Linked DNA regions of Homo sapiens. The protein of the gene in region 3 purifies or fractionates together with the protein of the main gene of each other region. This does not show direct contact. Each region holds a gene or a part of one and is shown on either strand. Other genes may lie near its edges.

What was found.
Region 1: the proteins of ESYT1 (region 3) and REEP5 purify together in Homo sapiens (affinity purification with mass spectrometry; 2 studies listed by BioGRID and IntAct, with this or other methods). This does not show direct contact.
Region 2: the proteins of ESYT1 (region 3) and ATL3 purify together in Homo sapiens (affinity purification with mass spectrometry; 3 studies listed by BioGRID and IntAct, with this or other methods). This does not show direct contact.

The regions. Positions count from the first base shown.
Region 1 is NC_000005.10:112,912,228-112,919,227, reverse strand, and holds part of REEP5 (receptor expression-enhancing protein 5), read left to right. Parts: intron 1-7,000. UniProt on the Homo sapiens protein: Plays an essential role in heart function and development by regulating the organization and function of the sarcoplasmic reticulum in cardiomyocytes.
Region 2 is NC_000011.10:63,626,377-63,633,376, reverse strand, and holds part of ATL3 (atlastin-3), read left to right. Parts: intron 1-279; coding exon 280-351; intron 352-554; exon of another isoform or gene 555-1,183; intron 1,184-1,905; coding exon 1,906-2,337; intron 2,338-3,971; coding exon 3,972-4,058; 3' UTR 4,059-7,000. UniProt on the Homo sapiens protein: Atlastin-3 (ATL3) is a membrane-anchored GTPase that mediates the GTP-dependent fusion of endoplasmic reticulum (ER) membranes, maintaining the continuous ER network. It facilitates the formation of three-way junctions where ER tubules intersect.
Region 3 is NC_000012.12:56,138,257-56,145,270, forward strand, and holds the end of ESYT1 (extended synaptotagmin-1), read left to right. Parts: coding exon 1-16; intron 17-147; coding exon 148-243; intron 244-511; coding exon 512-583; intron 584-670; coding exon 671-757; intron 758-4,028; coding exon 4,029-4,169; intron 4,170-4,321; coding exon 4,322-4,476; intron 4,477-4,578; coding exon 4,579-4,677; intron 4,678-4,760; coding exon 4,761-4,892; exon of another isoform or gene 4,893-4,971; coding exon 4,972-5,077; exon of another isoform or gene 5,078-5,269; intron 5,270-5,323; coding exon 5,324-5,373; intron 5,374-5,566; coding exon 5,567-5,606; 3' UTR 5,607-6,418; downstream 6,419-7,014. UniProt on the Homo sapiens protein: Binds calcium (via the C2 domains) and translocates to sites of contact between the endoplasmic reticulum and the cell membrane in response to increased cytosolic calcium levels.

The sequences.
Region 1 (7,000 bases), on a different chromosome or scaffold from region 3:
ATTTAATACTAATACATTGGGTATTAGGTCCCAACATATGGATGTTGGGGGAACACAACATTCAGACCATAGCAGTCACCTTCATTTTAACTATTCTCCATACCTCTTGTAACTCTTATGCTCCCTAGCCAGAGTTATTTTTTAAAATACAGGTTCATCTATTTAGCAAAAATCAAATGCCAGTCACATGTGTGGCACTGTGGTAGCACTTTAGATATGGCAAGAAATAAGGTAGTCATACTCTCTGTCCTTGTTGAATGAGCAGTCTACCCAGGCAAGAAATAGGCAAAGTAGTGACCGTGTGGTAAGCCCTCTAAAGTAAATAAACAGTTCTGGTAGAGAAGACCTGAGGAATGAGAAGGGGCCAGCCAAGAGCAGAGCCAGGGAGAGGGAGAAGAGTGTGTCAGGCCCTGAGGCAGCACACAGCTTAGCTCTGTGTGAGCAAAGAGTGGTGGGGGAGGCACCAGAGAGGTGCAGGTGCCAGCAGGTAGGGTCAGTGGTAGAAGTGTGCATTTCATTCCAGATGGTGGTAGGGAGTTTGCATTTTCTGATTGCCTTGGATGGGTTTTAAATAGGGGGTGACATGATACGATTTATATTTTAAGGTCACTTTGGCTGCTGTGACCTCTGTAAGGAGTTCGCGATCTTGCCAAACTATTGCCAGTAATTTACTTCCTTCCTTTCTCACCTTTCAGCCTTTCTCTTGCTGTTTCCTCTCCTTGGGCCATCACAAGAAGGGGAGTAGTGTCAGTATTGGGTCAAGAGACTGCAGGATGCAAAGATGAAATTGGGAAAAGCTCACTTGGCTTCCTAGCTTTTCTCCCTTTGGACTCCCTTTGGAAGTCTGTGAGTGAAGCTCAGGTGCACCTGGCTCCTGGTCAGGGTCTGCTGCACGTTGGAGCATGTAGATGGTTGAAGACTTGCCCAGTGCTCACTGGGGAGCAACCAGTACCTTATTGTATACCCCTCTTCCTACTGGTTGTTCTTTCCGTGTGCATAATTTCCCTTTGAGCTCTTTGAGAACAGGGTCTTTCATCTCTGACTTCTAGTTTCTAGAATTTTTGGCCATCTTATATAGGCAATTCGGAATCTAATTCCAGCCTTCCTTTCATCAAGAACTGTTGACATAATTACCTTAATCTCCTTACTTCCCTCTTTTACTGATAACAGGAGGCAGACTACTGGAAATGTTTATTATAAAGATAGACCTCCCCCCATTGCTAAGATATAATTTAGATACTTATAAATTGTACACTTTTAAAGTATGCAGTTCAGTGGCTAGTATGTTCAGAGTTGTGTAACCATCACCACTGTCTAATTCCAAAACATTTTTATCACCCCAAAGGGAAACCATCACCAATCACTCCCTATTCCTCCTACCCAGCCCCTGGAAACCACTAATCTGCATTCTGTTTCTATGAGTTTGCCTATTCTGAGCATTTCATGTAGACGGAATCATACAATATATGGCCTTTAATGTCTGGTGCAGCCCTGCTTCTAATGGGATTGCACAAATAAGAGTCCTCTGGAGGGTGTATGCTGTGCTGCACCCTCATATGTGAGTAAGTCCTCCTGGTGCAGTCCCTCCAGGGTGGGCGCTAGTGAGCCAGGGCCCTAGTCCTGTACTTGCTCCTTTGTACAAATGGAATTGTGAGGCAAACTCAGACTTTATCTTCTATTTAAGGAAAGGGGAAGGTTTGCTTTCTGTCCTACCCAGTAACTTTTTTGCTTAAAATTCTATAAAAATGTCTATTACTTTTCCTCTTTTTATTTCATATTTTCCTTAAGACTTGGGCTGCCACCTTCCTGGGACTATCAGAGTTGGGCCTTAAAGATCAAACAGGTAGTCCAGTTCCTTTAGTTTTAAAATGACAATTCAGGGACAGAGAAAGGTGGAGTGTGTTTCCCAAGGTCACACAGAGGCCAGGCTTGGTCTGGAACTACACAGGAATGTAAAGCACATTTAGGCATATTTTAGTGCCAATGTTAGAAAGATTAAATATGTTTAGGGGGCGGGGCATGATGGCCCACATCTGTAATCTCAGCACTTTGGGGTGCTGAGGCAGAGGGATTGCTTGAGGCCAGGAGTTCAAGACGAGAGTCCAGCACTATATATTTAATCTTTAACAACACTTTTGAAATCTCATACCCAGTTCAGTAATGTGTCATTTTAGTTTCTGTGTGTCCTCACAAGCCCATTTTAAACTTTTGCTGCTGGTGTAAAGAGTTATATTGCATTTAGCTCTTTGTATGACTCCTGAAATCTGTGTAGCATTTTATTTAACAGATATGTACATATCTCTGTCTAAGTGCTTTGCAAATATAGCTCATTTAATCCTCAGAACAACCCTATTATGTAAGTGCTATGATTATTCCCATTTTTACAGATGAGGAAACACAGAAAGAGAATTTGAATAACTTGATCAAGGTCTCACAACTAGCAGATGATGAAACTGGTATTTAAATCCAAAGAATCTGGCTCCAAATTTCATGCTTTTAATGATTACGTTATGCTACCTCCCTTGTGGCTCTTTGAATGTCCCACAAACACAACATCACCTTATGTAGAGATGAAAATTAAAAAATGTAGGCCTTTCAAAAAAACAGTTGACCCTGTCAATACATTACCTTTGTGCAGTGTATTTTTCCTCTCAAATAAGGTACTGTCATCCCAAATCATATATCTGCACACATAGGCATTGACTGTGTTTTGTAGACATTAGTTAGAATATGTTACTAACAACTTTTCTTATCTGTTATGTAGCTTTGACTTATGACAGCAGAGGCTTGCTCTGTTTTACTAGCACAAGGCCACCTGAAAATGGCACACTGAACTGGATTTCCTAAGGGGATGCAGCGTTGCCTTTAGTTCTGTTTCAAGAGACAAGTATCTCAAGGGAAGATGTTTGGGGATGACCCCTATCGAGGTCAGATCAGAAAGGGATGGCAAGAAGGTTAATTTGAAGAAAAAAAACAATGAAAATATCTACAAGAGTTGTAACACAGTTAACCACAAGTAAAAGCAACAGCATCCTCTTAGCTAAATGATGCTCAGCACACAAAGGGAGGACACATTCTGGGGAACACAAGTTAAAAAGAGTTGCAGTCTACTTGCTTAAGGTGTGCATTGACAGACTCCTAAAGAGGTTTATTACCCAGAGGAGACTTTGAGAAAGTCACCGTGGTGTGAATGACAGTTGTGAACAGACACTTTCTGTTTTGCAGCTAGTCACTGGAAGCAGAGCTGTTTCCTTAACAGTACTGGAGGATGTGTATTTGTAGTTCTCTTCTTGGACTCATTAGTAGGGGGTGTATTTGTTTTCTTGTGGGTTTTTTTTTTTTTTTTTAAATTGTAATTATGTTTTGTTCTTTTTTACTCATGAGAACTTCAGAGCAGATGTATTTTCTACTGAGCTGCCTATGTTCCCATTACACTAGCTTTTCTCTCTGGATCTATATGTGCTTTGTTAAAGTGTTGAAGAGCAGAGCAATGCATGCCTGCGCTTTGCCTTCTGGGGTAGTATGAAGCACAAGCCAATGTGGCCTTCTGGCCGATGTGCACTTGGATAAAAAATATAACAGGCATTCTGCAAACTGTGACTTAAGCAATTTACTTAAACATTTAAATCTTTAATTTACTTAATTTAAATCTGAAATCTTAAGCATTTAAACATTTAACCTTCCTCAACTTTTTTACTGTCCTTGTTTCACTTAACATTACTGCTAAGAGTGCTGGACTCTTTTAAGATGAAAGTGTTGTGGAGAAATGAAAAAGTAATAAAAATATCCTTATAACAACTTGTGACTATTTTGTAAAATAATGACAGCCAGCGTTTCAGTTAAGGTTCGCCCGCTTGCCTGTGTCATAAAGAAAATAAAGTTTTAAAAAGCAAATAAGATGAATGATTTAAATTATTTATTCATGATCAGAGTTTCTGGGCTCTAAAGCAGTTGTGGAGGAGGATCTCATTTCTAATACTCTATTCTGGAATGTTCCTTATGAGCTTTTTTTTTTCTCTTTATGAAGGCCCTGGAGATTTAGTCTATTTGTCCTTCTTTCTGTCGTAGCCTCCCTCATCTCCTTCTGACCTGGACTTCTCTTTTTCAGGACTGACTTTGAATGAGGACTCAGTTTTCAACTTAATTTTTTCACATGGCATTTAAAACAAGTATAAATACAAATATAACATGTTAAGGTATTTAGTGGTGATTCATAACATTAACAATTAATTTTGGGGAAGTATGAATTAATATGGCAGAAGTTTTAAAACAATTTCAAAATTGTGAATGAAATTACTTTTTGTAGCAGCTGAAATATAAGTGGGGGCTGTAGAAACGTACCCTGACTTCATTCTGTCACTTGCACACTTTCCTGATTCCAGGGAGTGGAGCTTATCAGTCACTCTGAGTCATGTGTCTACTATATATATCCTGCAGCCTCTGATAGACCAAGTGATCTAGTTAAGGGATCGCTCACTTGTCTAGACTGCGGTCCGCATCTAAGGTGGCCCTCCTTTACCTAGGAAAAGGCAGCTTAGGTTGTTCCCCTTCTAAGTTGTGAGGTTACTTGAGATTAAGTTAAACTTTATGATACCAATCTGACACAGATACTTATAGAACCACTGGTTTTATTGACAAAGGGTTGTCCCAGTGGGATTTGCATCTGCTCTTTTATTGCTCCTGGCATTAATCTTTTTTACCATCAATCATTCAAACAGTTTTTTTGGGGGGACAGGCAGGGAGGCTGAGATGGGTGGATTGCTTGAGTTTGAGACCAGCCTGGACAACATGGCAAAACCCCATCTCTACAAAAAATACAAAAAATTAGTACACGCCTGTAGTCCCAGCTACTCCAGAAGCTGAAGTGGGAGAATCACCTGAGCTTGAGAAAGTCAAGGCTGTGGTGAGCTGTGTTGATGCCACTGCACTCAGCCTGAGTGACAGAGTGAGACCCTGTCTCAAAAAAACACACACACACTTGGGAGGCTGAGGAAGGAGAATTGCTTGAACCCAGGAGGCACAGGTTGCAATGAGCCGAGATTGCGCCACTGCACTCCAGCCTGGTTTTTTTGAGTGTGTTTTTTTTGAGACAGGGTCTCACTCTGTCACCCAGGCTGAGTGCAATGGCATGAACACAGCTCACTGCAGCCTTGACTTTCTCAAGCTCAGGTGATTCTCCCACTTCAGCTTCTGGAGTAGCTGGGACTACAGGTGTGTACTAATTTTTTGTATTTTTTGTAGAGATGGGGTTTTGCCATGTTGCCCAGGCTGGTCTCAAACTCCTGGGTGCACACACACACACACACAAACACACACACATTCAGTTTTGAGTTATAAAATGTTAGCTAAAAGGGGTCTTAGAGACTAAGCTGCTAGGGTGATAGCCACCTGTAACAGATGTGGAAATCAAGGCCACAAACTGAAGTTAATTGACATAGGTCACAGGTGTGTTGGGACCAATTCAGTCTTAAGTGTAGGGATGTCTGTCCACATTCCGCATTGTTATATTTGACTGTGACTGACTCTTCCATTTTGCATTTAAAAACAAAATGGTGGATAGTGGTAAATGAGATCACTGTAATTAAACACCAAAAGATTTGACCACTGAATGACTGCATTTTTTTCTTTATACTTCATTATAGGTATTCTATAGACTCATCTTAATTTTTTTTTTTTTTTTTTTTTTTTTTTAGCCAGGGTCATACTCTGTCACCCAGGCTGCAGTGCAGTGGTGCAATCATGACTCACTGCAGCCTTGACCTCCCAGGCTCTAGCTATTCTCACTCCACTGCCTCTGTAATCTTTTTTCTTTTCTTTTCTTTTTTTCTTTCTTTCTCTTTCTTTCTCTTTCTTTCTTCTTTCTTTCCTTTCTTTCTTTCTTTTCTTTCTTTTCCTTTCTGTCTGTCTGTCTTTCTTTCTTTCTGTCTTTCTTTCTTGATGGAGTTTCCCTCTTGTTGCCCAGGCTGGAGTGCAGTGGCGCAATCAGCTCACTGCAGCCTCCACCTCCCGGGTTCAAGCGATTCTCCTGCCTCAGCCTCCCAAGTAGCTGGGATTACAGGCATCTGCCACCAATTTTTTGTGTTTTTAATAGAGATGGGGTTTCACCATGTTGGCCAGGCTGGTCTTGAACTCATGACCTTAGGTGATCCATCTGCCTTGGCCTCCCAAAGTGTTGGGATTACAGACATGAGCCACTGTGCCCGGTCAGTCTTTCATTAGTCTTTCTCGTACTGTTTGTTGGTTTTCTCTCTTGCTTTAAAAGCACATATACTCTGCAGTGAAAAAGATATGTAACTTTCTGATCACGCATAGTTTCCTGCCTTCTTTTTTTCTATGAAGGAGAAAAATATTTTCCTTATTGGCATGGAAACGAACTAGTGTTTATGTCTTAAAATGTCTGATTCTTTTTTCCTTCTTATTTGAGGTACTGATAATAGGAAAACCATTTTGAATTACTAAGAATTCCTACATCATACTCTCTGATAAATACAGCCAAAAGCAATCCCATGCATGGTGGGCATGGAGGATGGTCAAGTTATGTGTCTGCCATAACAAAAAGGATTATAAACATTATGGTCCATGTTCTTCATATTCAATTTCCAAAGAACCTATCTTAACCTCTGGAATATTTGCTATTAAACATAAGTTACCACATTAGAAATAAAATATAAAGCAGATGGACCAGAAGATGATTCCTTTCTGTTCTTTACCAATAGGACATCTTAAAGCTTTTTATCCATATATATGGATAAAATTAAAATATATATGGGTATAAATGGATATATAGATATATTTTAATGAACTGCTTTTTTTTCCACACTGTCAGTCTCTGGTAAATAGTTGATATTGGTACAACTGGTTTGAATAATAAAGCCAATGCTGTGAAGACATACTATTACTTAATTTTATGTCATTTGGCTAGTTTGAATTGTAGCAACTGAGTTACTTATGAACCATGCACAGAACACATAGTATGTACCTATGTGTCTTAGGTGTGAGT
Region 2 (7,000 bases), on a different chromosome or scaffold from region 3:
AATAATATTTTCCTTGAATTTTGGAGATTTAATTTTTGCTAAAGATTCTTATGTATAAGAATACATATTTCTATGTATATGAACTTCTACCTTTTTTTGGTAGAAAATTTGGCAGAAAAAGTGTATTCTATTTCATCAGTTGAACTATATGGAAATCTAGAAAAATAGAAGGTTAATAAAAAAGGAAGAATGGGGAATAGAGAAGATTTTTGTTAGGTTATTTGTGGAGGAATGTTAAAAGAGGAAGGATTTACAGTTCACGTTTTTCTCTCTTAAAAGGCCACTGCTGAAGCCAACAACTTAGCAGCTGCAGCCTCTGCCAAGGACATTTATTATAACAACATGGAAGAGGTACGTGGGACATACGCCTTATTCTGAAATATCTATAATCTGGGCATTGTTGCTGACTTCAAAAGCCCAACTTGATCCTACTTAATGTATCTTTAAGTGATGAGGCAATAAACTTATATTCAGGTTGTCCTGGTAACGGGGGCCTTCTAATTATTACCATTTCTTTGTTTGTTTGTTTGTTCTTGTTTTGTTTTGTTTTGTTTTGAATAGCAAATAGTTTATTGGTAAGTACATAGTTTCAATGGGAGTAATAAATTCACATGAGCAGGAGACAATAATCAAGTCAAAAGAATAAATGCTTACTAATCATCAGAAAATCTGTGGCCATTAAGGCTGGCACATAAAAATCCAAAATCACTCAGAGGCCGAATCTTAAAAGAAGATTCGTCCTCTTATTAGTTCATATGGAATAGGTCCATAGTAACTGGAATCTGTAGAATTCTGTAGATTTATCACCTTCTAACCAAACATGACCCACTGGGACATAACTGTAGCTTTTAAAGAAATCTGATGGACTAGTGGTGAGGATTTTGTCTCCTTCCAAACCAGTTACTCTTTTACAAATATTTGATGTTGGATCACTTGGGCTTTTTGCAATCACAATGTCACCTCTTTGGATACTATCAAAATGTCGACTAAGATTTTGTGCAAAGACAGTATCTGAATTTTGAATTGTAGGCTCCATTGATGGTCCAGAACACATGACAACACCACCAACGTATTCAGAAGCACAGTGAGCTATACAGCCATACTGAATAGCATAGCCAACAAGTCAGAAGGTTTCCCCAGAGCACCACGAAGCATAGTTCTATGTAGACTCTGCCACCATTGGTCATAGATCTGTTCTATAATTCATTTAATTTTTAGGGAAGTCGCAGGGCTTCCAGAAAAAAAAAATTAAAGCATGTCTCAAAGCGTATGTGGGTGATCCATGATTTCAGGAATCCTCGGGTCCCAAAGAACCCTGAGGACCCTCAACCAGGACACAGGTGGGCCTTTCTCACCTGGGCCCTGCAGAAGTCGACCGTTTGCTTTTGTTTTTTAGAGACGGAGTCTCACTCTGTCGCCCAGGCTGGAGTGCAGTGGTGCGATCTCGGCTCACTGCAACCTCCGCCTCCCGGGTTCAAGCGGTTCTCCTGCCTCAGCCTTCTGAGTAGCTGGGATTACAGGTGCCTGCCATCACGCCCGGCTAATTTTTTTTGTGTTAGTAGAGACGGAGTTTCACCATGTTTACCAGGCTGATTTCAAACTCCTGACCTCAAGTGATCTGCCCGCCCTGGCCTCCGAAAGTGCTGGGATTACAGGCGTGAGCCACCGCACCCGTCCCAGTGTCACTGCTCTTTCCAATTGATATTATCACCCTGGTTTTTTAAGTGTGCTTTTCAGAGGAAGTGAAACTAGACTTTATTGGTCTTAGTCATCTTTTAAAAGTTAACTTATTAATACATTGTTAACATCTTAAAACATTCTAATCCTTTCATTATCTTTTCATGTTTTATTTGGCACTTGTTTTTGAAGAGATCTTTTAACATATTGTTTCTTTGTTCTTTTTAGGTTTGTGGGGGAGAGAAACCTTATTTGTCTCCAGACATTCTAGAGGAGAAGCACTGTGAATTCAAACAACTTGCTCTGGACCATTTTAAGAAGACCAAGAAGATGGGTGGGAAGGATTTCAGCTTTCGTTACCAGCAGGAGCTGGAGGAGGAAATCAAGGAATTATATGAGAACTTCTGCAAGCACAATGGTAGCAAGAACGTCTTCAGCACCTTCCGAACCCCTGCAGTGCTGTTCACGGGCATTGTAGCTTTGTACATAGCCTCAGGCCTCACTGGCTTCATAGGTCTTGAGGTTGTAGCCCAGTTGTTCAACTGTATGGTTGGACTACTGTTAATAGCACTCCTCACCTGGGGCTACATCAGGTATTCTGGTCAATATCGTGAGCTGGGCGGAGCTATTGATTTTGGTGCCGCATATGTGTTGGAGCAGGTAAGTGGTGCTGCTGAAGAGCCTGAGGGTTGATAATGGGCAGATATTTGTGCTTCTGTTGTAAAATATCTCAGTTTGGAAGAATTTCATAGTGAAGACATGAGACAGTGGCCACTCCGTTGGCTGTTGTTTTCTGATAGACTGTATGTTTTATTATCCTTTAGGATATTAATATTTATTCTTAATATTTTGTTTCCATGTCTAAAAAGGCCCCCGCCCCGCTTTTTTTTTTTTTTTTTGAGACAAAGTCTCGCTGTGCTCTCTTGCCCAGGCTGGAGTCCAGTGGCATGATCTTGGCTCACTGCAACCTCCGCCTCCCAGGTTCAAGTGATTCTCTTGCGTCAGCCTCCCAAGTAGCTGAGACTACAGGTGTGTGCCACCACGGCCCGCTAGTTTTTGTATTTTTAATAGAGACAGGGTTTCACCATGTTGACCAGGCTGGTCTCGAACTCCTGACCTCATGGTCCGCCTGCCTCGGCCTCCCAAAGTGCTGGGATTACAGGTGTGAGCCACCGTGCCCAGCCCAAAAATAGCCCTTTAATGCAAAAACATTCCAACTTAGACATACTGATTGTGTTCCCCTTTGGCAACTTTTTTTTTTTTTTTTTTTTTTGAGACAGATTTTTACGCTTTTGCCCAGGCTGGAGTGAAGTGGTGTGATCTTGGCTCACTGCAACCTCTGCCCACTGGGTTCAAGTGATTCTCTTGCCTCAGCCTCCCAAGAGTAGCTGGGATTATAGGTGCCTGACACCATGCCCAGTTAATTTCTGTATTTTTTTTTTTTTTTTTAGTAGAGACAGTGTTTTGCCATGTTAGCTAGGCTGGTCTTGAACTCCTGACCTCAGGTGATCCACCCACCTCGGCCTCCCAAAGTGCTAGGATTATAGGCATGAGCTATTGCGCCTGGTCGGCAACTTCTAATTACATGCTCTTCAGACATAATTTTTATGTGATTCTCACTTCTCACCCCCTCTAGATTAATTTACTTCATTGAAAAGCAAGAACTTTGAAAAAATTATGAACTTAACGAAAAATGTTCGGTTTTGAGTCCTACTGGATTAGGAAAGGGATGGTATCTTTTTTATTTAAAAATCTTCCAAAAGCCAGTGGCTTGGTTATTTATTTATTGGGTTGCTTATTTATTTATTTATAAAATTTTTTTTGGAGACGAGGTCTTGCTTTGTCACCCAGGCTGGTATCTTAGCTCATTGTAACTTAAAACTCCTGGGCTCAAGTGATCCTCCCACCTCAGCCTCCCAAGCAGCCGGTGTTACAGGCGAGTGCCACCACACCTGACTAACCCAGTAGCTCTTGGACATTGACATGGTCACAAGTTTTGTAGATCTTTGAGATGATACATTTGTTTTTCTGAGTAACATGAACAGGTGAGTTGGGTTAGCAGCTTGTGAAGCCACAGGAGCTGCCTATCCTACCCTAGCCACAGAGCAGATGTTCCCCTGGCTCTCTTGGGAGTTAGCTGCTGCCACAGCCTCTCTGTATCCCTGCATTTTCATTCAACTGCTTTCTGTAACATGCCGATGATGGAGACAGGTTTTTGAAAGTTTAAGGACTTACTTTCTTGTTGCTGTGTTGTATTTTATTAACTTATATGTTGAATAAATGGACTTTTGCAGGCTTCTTCTCATATCGGTAATTCCACTCAGGCCACTGTGAGGGATGCAGTTGTTGGAAGACCATCCATGGATAAAAAAGCTCAATAGCATCTTAACGTGAAGATCAAACAAGAACACAACAAGCCCCTACTGATTTCTGGGTTTCTGCCACGGCCACAGGTTCATATCCAGAGGAATGGCAGATCTGAGACGATCCAGGAAGAGCTAAAACATGGCCCTGTAATAAATGAGCAGACCTCTCCTGTGGTTTCAAATTATTAAACACACTTCCATTTCTCTTGGAAGCATTTCTTTTCCTTGCTGTTATAGATGCAAGCCTGTGTCTATTTTCATATTACTCTGCTTTGTGCACTTTATGGAGGAGGAAGCTAGAGGAAAAATGGAAATGCAGCTTTTAAGTTCTTTATGTGCCACTTAGTGCCTTTTAAGATTGATTCCATGGTTTTGCACACACGATGGGGAGGGGATGGAGGATAACCTCATGAAAGGTGCCGTTTTCGGGTGAAACTTGACATTTCTTTTATACTTTACTCTTTTGAGAAGGATTCTTTTTTTTTTTTTTTTTTTTTTTGAGTTGGAGTCTCGCTCTGTCACCAGGCTTGAGTGCAGTGGTGTGATCTTGGCTCACTGCAACCTCTGCCTGCCGGGTTCAAGCAGTTCTCCTGCCTCAGCCTCCCAAGTAGCTGGGACTACAGGTGTACGCCACCATACCCAGCTAATTTTTTTGTATTTTTAGTAGAGATGGGGTTTCACCATGTTGGCCAGGATGGTCTTGGTCTCTTGACCTTGTGATCCGCCTGCCCGCCTTGGCCTCCCAAAGTGCTGGGATTACAGGCGTGAGCCACCGTGCCCGGCCAAGAAGGATTCCTTTTTTAAAAGTTTACAGAACTTGGAGAAACTTCAGAACTAAAGACTAACTGAAAATGATGTCATTACACTCAAAAAAAATTTACAATAGGGAATCCTGTTGCCACATAGTGTGGAAAAATCATGTCATATTTAAATATACCATACTCTGAAATGTGAGGTTTTTACCCAGTAGGCTGACAGTTTTGTTGCAACTTGCTCTATTTTTTTTTTTTTTTTGGTCCCTATAGCTTCTTTCTAGAAAAAGAGGCAAACGTGCCTTGAAAAGCCAGAGTGGCTCATAATAAAAGGAATGCGCTAGATACTTCAAGAAAAAAGCTAAGTTTAAATGAACCATGTGACCTCTGATAAGTCACTTGAACTTGTGCCTTGGTCAGGTTCACTGTAGGTTTACATATGTATGTATGTTTTACACAACTCTTGTAATTGTCATTTGAGGGGTTTTGTTTTTGAGAGTTCTGCATAAGAACAGAACTTTATTAAGGATTAGAGGGAAGATACAAATATTACTGCGTTTAATTGATGTCTAATTTCATGTGGCTTAGCAGCAATTAATAACCTGATTTAAGGTCTTTATTCAGAATGTTAATTTGCATTCTCTGCCGTGTCTAATGTTCTTAATAATGAAGCTAAAATTAACCCATTTTATTTAGTGAATTATCTATTTAATTTTACTTTGGCTAGTCTGGTAGCTTTAAGATAGCTTTGCCTTAGCAAGGATCAAAGTCCTACCCAAATATAAAAAATATCTAGAAGTATCTAAGAGTTCTTTTTTTCTATTTACCTTGATTAGGAGATAAAAGTTTTATCTGTTAGTTGCTTTTCCTTTTGGAATTATTGTGGATTTTAAAACTTAAAACTTGCCTGCAAGTATTTATATAAACATTCAGGTATATAAGCCTTAATTTCTAAGATAATTTAACTTTTGTTATGGGAGGGAGGTAAGAGTGTAAATTTTATATACATGAAGGTAAGATCTGAGTGTAAACTTTACATACATGAAGTATGAATGGAAGGTAGAAAAAAAGTCCCTTTTCGCATGTAATCTCTTTATCAAAGAATTTTCTTTTGACACTTTACCACTGAAGTATTTTTGTAAGTCCTAAATTCGCAGCATATTGTTTCATATTTATATGCCATCTTGCAAATAGTTCTTGCTATTTTATTCACTGCTGTTACACTTTAGAAAAATTCCAGCTTGTTTACTTGCATTTATCAGTGATGCCAACCAAGCTTTGACTGTTAACTTGAAAGCTTGCTTCTGAAATGTTGGTGCATTTTCAGGTGACCTCTTATCTCTCTGAAAGTTCATACCTATTAGCAGGCTCTGTAAATATTGACATACTTAGCTTTTAATACATTCTATAAGTAAATTTATAGATTTCAGAATAACTTAAAAAATTTAATGGTAAGAAGGGGTGATGTGTCGAAAACTCATACTAAAGTATTAGGTCACTTTAAAAAAAGTGATAATGTATGATTTAATGAAATCTTAAGATTCAGTTACTATTTAAATTCACCATTTCTGTTTTGGTCTTATAAAGAGACCTTGGTTTAATTATCCAGAGGAAGTCCTCTTCACCATTTTTTTTTTTTCTTAGTTCTGCTTCTGGAAAGTGTTTTATAAAGTTTTCTCAGTGAGGGTTCTTAAGAGTTTTCTTTGGCCTCTTTTCTCTCAACAGTAAATTGATGATTTTATATCAGCTTTTTCAATAAAAGATGCATTATCATTACTGGCTATAAATCATCCTGGGGAGATTTATAACCAGGTTAAAAATAATATCTTTTACTTCTCTCACCTTTTACTTGTGGTTCAGATGCTCAGACTGTGCCTGTTTGCGTCGTGTCTGTTGCTCTGCCGCTTTCCATGCAGGCATTTTTAATTTTACACAATCCTAACAATATATGGAACTCATTCCTATGAATATATAAAAGGAGGCTTCCAAAATTTTCTATTAAAATATTTCAGGATAAATTAAGTGTTGATAATTTGAAAAAATAATTTCAATGAGCTGCTTATAGTAAAAATGGTAGAATCAGAGTTTTCATTCTTTGAGAAATCTTTCTGTAAGATTGGCTCATAGATAAAATGAGACAAACTACTATGTATGATAAAACACCTTCAGAGTCATGCCTTGTTTTATTTTATTTTATTTTTTGAG
Region 3 (7,014 bases):
TGCTGAGTTAGAGGAGGTAGGGCAGGAGACTTGAGGAAGGAAGGGACCCAAGGTGGGGCAGGATGAGCTCTTCTCTTAGCGTTCAAGGCACATGCCAGAACCCAAGGTGTCAGTTACCACTCCCCAGCCCCGTGTGCCCCTCCACAGGTGCTGCAGGTGAATAGTTTGATCCAGACTCAGAAGAGTGCGGAGCTGGCTGCGGCCCTGCTATCCATCTATATGGAGCGGGCAGAGGACCTCCCGGTGAGATCCCGCTCCCCATGCCCCATAACTTCCTGGCCCTTCTTCCACCTTCCTCCGGTTTGGATGGTCCTGGAGTATTTAGAATAAGAAAAATGGCCCCTCTCTTTCTGAGGGTAGTGCAGGGGTGGGAAAAGTTGTCTGTTCAAGGCCACGGGTAGTGGCTGCCAAGTAATAATGGAGACATGGCTGCTGGCTGTGGATATAATTTGTGAGGGGGATCTGCCTAACTAGGTCCAAATTTAAGACTAACACAGTATTGTCTTTCTAGCTGCGAAAAGGCACCAAGCACCTCAGCCCTTATGCTACTCTCACTGTGGGAGATAGTTCTCATAAAACCAAGGTATGAAGAAATGCTGCAGGGTAAAAATGGGAGGGATAAGAGAAATAAGAGTATCAGCTACTGATCATAAGCCCTCATCTCCACCAGACTATTTCGCAAACTTCAGCCCCTGTCTGGGATGAGAGTGCCTCCTTTCTCATCAGGAAACCACACACTGAGAGCCTAGAGTTGCAGGTACTGTAAATTCATTCTTCAAATATTTAGCAGATTTCTGCCATGGCCAGGCAGGAAACCAGGCACAGAGCATTCAGAGATGAGATAAAAGGTTGACTTTTTTTTTTTTTTTTGAGACAGAGTCTTGCTCTGTCGCCCAGGCTGGAGTGCAGTGGTGCTATCTTGGCTCACTGCAAGCTCCGCCTCCTGGGTTCACACCATTCTCCTGCCTCAGCCTCCCAAGTAGCTGGGACTACAGGTGCCCGCCACCACACCTGGCTAATTTTTGCATTTTTTTTAGTAGAGATGGAGTTTCACCATGTTAGCCAGGCTGGTCTCGAACTCCTGACCTCAGGTGATCCGCCCACCTCGGCCTCCCAAAGTGCTGGAAATACAGGTGTGAGCCACCGCACCCGGCCAAAAGATTGACTTCTTATCTTTATGGAGCTCACACTCTGTTTTGGGAGAAAAATAACCAGATGAAACTTTCAGAATGATAACTGAGGTAAAAGGCACTGTGGGGAAGAAAGGAAGGGTTCAGGCTGGGGAAAGGCTGGAGATAGAAAGGCATCCTTAGATGACCCCTGAGCTTGAGGGTAGATTTTTTTTTTTTTTTTTTGAGACTAGAGTCTCACTCTTATTGCCCAGGCTAGAGTGCAGTGGCGCAATCTCAGCTCACTGCAACCTCAGCCTTCCAGGTTCAAGCGATTCTCCTGCCTCAGCCTCCCGCGTACCTGGGATTACATGCGCGTGCCACCATACCCCACCAATTTTTAGTAGAGACGGGGTTTTGCCATGTTGGCCAGGCTGGTCTTGAACTCCTGACCTCAGGTTATCCATCCACCTCAGCCTCCCAAAGTGCTGGGATTATAGGTGTGAGCCACTGCACCCGGCCTTTTTTTTTTTAGACAGGGTCTTACTCTGTCGCCCAGGCTGGAGTGCCGTGGTGCAATCAGGGCTCACTACAGCCTCAACTCTTGGGCTCTAGCAATCCTCCTACCTCAGCTGGGATAACAGGTGCACACTACCACACCTAGCTAATTTTTGTATTTTTTTGTGGAGATGAGGTTTTACCATGTCATCCAGGCTGGTCTCGAACTCCTGGACTCAAGCATTCTGCCCGCCTCGGCATCCCAAAGTGCTGGGATTACAAGCGTGAGAACCGCGCCCCAGCCTAAGGGTAGATTTACTGGTTCTTTCGGACCACGAAAAGAAGAGCAGGAAAACTCTTTAGGCTGAGAAAAAAAATGGAGGAGAGAGAAGGCATATTTATTATAGATCAGAGAGGCAGGCAGAGCAAGATCATAGGAGCTGTTGAATAGTATGCTAGAAATATGGATTTTATCCTAAGGCTTAGGGAAGCCTTTGTTTATTTTATTTATTATTTTTTTGAAACAGAGTCTTGCTCTGTTGCCCAGGCTGGAGTACAGTGATACGATCTCAGCTCACTGCAACCTCCCTCCTGGGTTCAATCGATTCTCCTGCCTCAGCCTCCCGAGTAGATGGGATTATAGGTGCCCGCCACCACGCCCAGCTAATTTTTGTATTTTTAAGAGAGACGGGGTTTCACCATGTTGGTCAGGCTGGTCTCTAAGTCCTGACCTCAAGTGATCCACTGCCTCGGCCTCCCAAAGTGCTGGAATTACAGGCGTCAGCCACCACACCCAGTCAGGGAAGCCTTTAATGAGAGGTCACATATCCAGATTTGCATTTTGGGAAGATCATAGGGATAAGAGGGTAAAGAATGGACTGGAGAGGGACAACACTGGGGGCAGGGAGATCAGTGAGGAGACTGTTAGAGCAGTCAAAGCAGGAAACGACTAAAGCCTGATGGGATTTGAAGATTGCTGTGATATGGAGCAGGTGGAGGAGCAAGGAACAGCCTAGACACTAACTCTGGGGTTTTTGGCACAGGGTGGCTAGATGGATAAGGGTGCCGTTGCTGACTTAGGGAGTGCACAGAGAGGGAATTTTGGAATTTGAGATCTCTGCAGGACATCCAAGAGAAGACATGCAGAAAACAAATCTATTGTCCATGAGGTGTTCCTCCCTTGCCCTCTTATTGGAACATCATGAGCAAGCAACCACTCATAAGTGTAGTCATGGGTGAGATCTCTTAGGCAGCGTGGAGAGTGAGGAGACAAAAGATGGCCATGAGCCATCTTACAGGTGTGAACCACTGTGCCCGGCTGAAATTAATAGAATTTAAAATAATGTAACTTAATGCTAGCAGAGTAGAAAGGAGGTACAAATGAGCTCAGTTCTTCATCTTTTATAGCAGGGAATCAATAGATACAAGCATATTAGAATTCCGTGAGAACAAAGAAAACAGGAGGGTTTTAAAGGTTGTTACATTTGGAATATGGCAATAGGAGTAGGATGGGCAAGAAACATTTACTTTTAGTTCTGTTTTTACTGTTGTTTTCTGTATGCTGTAGGTATTACTGGTATAATTTCTGAAAGCTAGGTTGGGCGCGGTGGCTCACGCCTGTAATCCCAGCACTTTGGGAGGCCAAGGCGGGCAGATCACAAGGTCAGGAGATCGAGACCATCCTGGCTAACACGGTGAAACCCTGTCTCTATTAAAAATACAAAAAATTAGCCGGGTGTGGTGGCGGACACCTGTAGTCCCAGCTACTTGGGAGGCTGAGGCAGGAGAATGGCGTGAACCCAGGAGGCGGAGCTTGCAGTGAGCTGAGATTGCGCCACTGCACTCCAGCCTGGGCAACAGAGCGAGACTCCGTCTCAAAAATAATAATAATAATTTCTGAAAGTTTATGAGGTAAAGATGGTCCACTCTACTCTGGTTAAGAAAGGAAGGACAGGCCAGACACAGTGGCTCACACCTGTAATCCTAGCAATTTGGGAGGCTGAGGTGGGTGGATCACCTGAGGTTGGGAGTTTGAGACCAGCCTGACCAACATGGAGAAACCCCAGCTCTACTAAAAATACAAAATTGGCTGGGCGTGGTGGCAGGTGCCTGTAATCCCAGCTACTCAGGAGGTTGAGGCAGGAGAATCGCTTGAACCTGGGAGGCGGAGGTTGCGGTGAGACCAGATCACGCCATGCACTCCAGCCTGGGCAACAAGAGCGAAACTCTGTCTCAAAAAAAAAAAAAAGGAAGGAAGGACAGAGGGAGGGACTAGCAACTGTTACCATGGCTTCCCTGCCTTTCTCAAAGGGAAATCTCACCAAACCACCTATGAGTCCAAGCGTTTGGACCTTTAAAACACCAGGATTAACTCATTTGTTGATGCATTCGCCTCTTGATCATGGTCCTGTTGCCCCACAGGTTCGGGGTGAGGGCACTGGCGTGCTGGGCTCATTATCCCTGCCCCTCTCAGAGCTCCTCGTGGCTGACCAGCTCTGCTTGGACCGCTGGTTTACACTCAGCAGTGGTCAGGGGCAGGTGCTACTGAGAGCACAGCTAGGGGTGAGTGACAGGAGATGGTGGGCAGGATGAGAGGGAGGAGGGGAGGGCCTTCACAGGTGAGGGACACCCAGGAGGGTGGGAACAGAGGGCCGTGTCCTTAGAGTGAGGGAACTGAGAGAACTCTGCCCAGCTCACAGCTTTCTTGCCCCTAGATCCTGGTGTCCCAGCACTCGGGAGTGGAAGCTCATAGCCACAGCTACAGCCACAGCTCCTCATCGCTGAGTGAAGAACCAGAGCTCTCGGGGGGACCCCCTCACATCACCTCCTCAGCCCCAGAGCTCCGGCAGCGCCTAACACATGTTGACAGGTAAAGGGCTGGGACAGGAAGGTGGGACGCAGTCAGAAATAAAAAGTATTACAGGTTCACTAGGCTCTAGCTTTCCCCAGACCTACTGATATTTCTCCACAGTCCCCTTGAGGCTCCAGCCGGGCCTCTGGGCCAGGTGAAACTGACTCTGTGGTACTACAGTGAAGAACGAAAGCTGGTCAGCATTGTTCATGGTTGCCGGTGAGACCCCATCCCTCCTGTCCTCCAGATCGCCTCCATCCCTTCCCTCAGGTTACCATATCACCTACATCCTCCTGTTGTAGGTCCCTTCGACAGAATGGACGTGATCCTCCTGATCCCTATGTGTCACTGTTGCTACTGCCAGACAAGAACCGAGGCACCAAGAGGAGGACCTCACAGAAGAAGAGGACCCTGAGTCCTGAATTTAATGAACGGTCAGTCAGTGGGCATTCAGGTGGAGAGATGGCAGGCTTGGAAAGGACTCCTGGCCCCTAACATCCAGTCCTACCCCAGGTTTGAGTGGGAACTCCCCCTGGATGAGGCCCAGAGACGAAAGCTGGATGTCTCTGTCAAGTCTAATTCCTCCTTCATGTCAAGAGAGCGTGAGCTGCTGGGGAAGGTAAGAGGGCAGGATGGCAGGGCAGAGGTGAGGGCTGGAAGCTGCTGGCACCAAGGTTATAGTCCCTGTGAGGAAGGAAGTACCCCACGTGATCCTTTAGAGGTGACTCACCTCTGCAATGGTTTGGGACGAGTATGTGATGAAGGAACATGGTCTTTGGAGATTTCAAAACAGCATCATCAGAATGAGATCCTGTCTCAAAAAATAAAAGAAATAACATCTTTCCCCTATCATCTTCCAACACAGGTGCAGCTGGACCTAGCTGAGACAGACCTTTCCCAGGGTGTAGCCCGGTGGTGAGTGTCTGCGTGGGTGGGGGATGGTCTGGATATTTCAGTGGGAGAAATTCCAATCACAGGAAAGGAAAAAAAGATACAATCTGAGCAGAGAACCATTGATTCTATCAAGTAGAGAAGCCCTTGGATCGTGTCTCATTTATAAATATGATGACACAAGAGTCATCTTTCTACATGAGCCCTCTTTTCACAGGTATGACCTGATGGACAACAAGGACAAGGGCAGCTCCTAGGAGCTGGCGAGTCCCAGCCTGACTGCTCTGTCTTCCTGCCTTCGTCTCGCTCCATCACCGCCTCAATGTGATGAGCCTAAAGCTAGGGTCCAAGGGCAGAGCCTGTGCCCTTCAGCCCTTTCACCTAACAGGCCCATATTCGGGCCTTTGCCTGACCAAAGAGAAGAACCGTATGTTCCCTTTACTGCACGGCCTTTATCCTTCTGGGCCCCTGGGGCGGGGACCTGAGCTGGCTGTTTCCTGCTTTGCCTGCACATTGTTCTCCCTTCCTCCCAACTCCTCAGGGCCTTCTGTATCTGTGCCTGGCCAGTGGCAGCACTAGCAGTGGTATTAGCTTATGCCAAATACAGCTTTGGAAGGATCTTTTTTTCTTTAACTAGATGGTCACCTTCTTCCCTACCACACATGGGTGGGAAGGTGGACAGGCTAACCTCTCCAGCTGTGAGCCTCTTAGACTACTGCATGTAGCAAATGTTCAGCAGCTCAGGCCCCCATGTCCAGTTCTGTCCCCACTGTCCTCAACCCTGTCCTGAAAATTCTACTGCTTTGATGGCTGGGGCCAGTCTCTTGTCACTTTGGAAACTGAGGACGCGTGGATTCTACTCAAGCCTCCAAGTAGTGGCATATCAGTCTTGGAGCTCCTAGCTGGTGATACGGAGAGGGCTTTGGAGGACTTGGGACAGCAGGGCCAATTTTTTTGCCCAAGTGCCTAGGCTGCTAACTCACTGACTAGAACTTAATCTGGTACTTTACAGTTTTGCACCAACTCTGCCAAGCCACTGGATCTTACATTAAACATCATACTCAAACCAGCTGTGGTTCTTTTCCTTAAGGATAGGGAATCAATCTACCCATCTGATGTTTATTCCTACTGTCAAAAGCCTTTATCCAATTCGTGAATCATGTCAGTTTAATTAATGGTCAAAGCCTACTAAGGTTGCAGCCACCAAGAATGTTGAGGATGGTCAAGAGACCTGTGTAAAGTAGCTGCTGTTGCATTTCAGGTGAGACTCATTTCCAGTCACAGTGATGAACTCTGTTACCCATCCAACTTGTCTGCTGACCACTATAGGCTTTCCAGGGAAGGGATTCCTAAACCTGGTAAACCTGGGAGCTCTGTGCCACTGCACAGGCTCCTGGTGTCTCTGTGCCACTGCACAGGCTCCTGGTGTCTCTGTGCTGTCAGGGCATGCTCAGCTACATTCAAAAGGGCTTCAGGCCCATCTAGCAGGAGCTGAGAAATACACCCATTTCGATCATCTGTACACCTTGAACTCTGCTCCTTGCAAGAACTTTCCTGGAATGCAAGCTAGAGAAGCTGTGCTCCATCTGTTCTGCCAATTGAAAGGAGAGAGATGGACAGAGTGAACTACTGAAAACAGGGTCACTGGCATAGGAACTTGGGGAT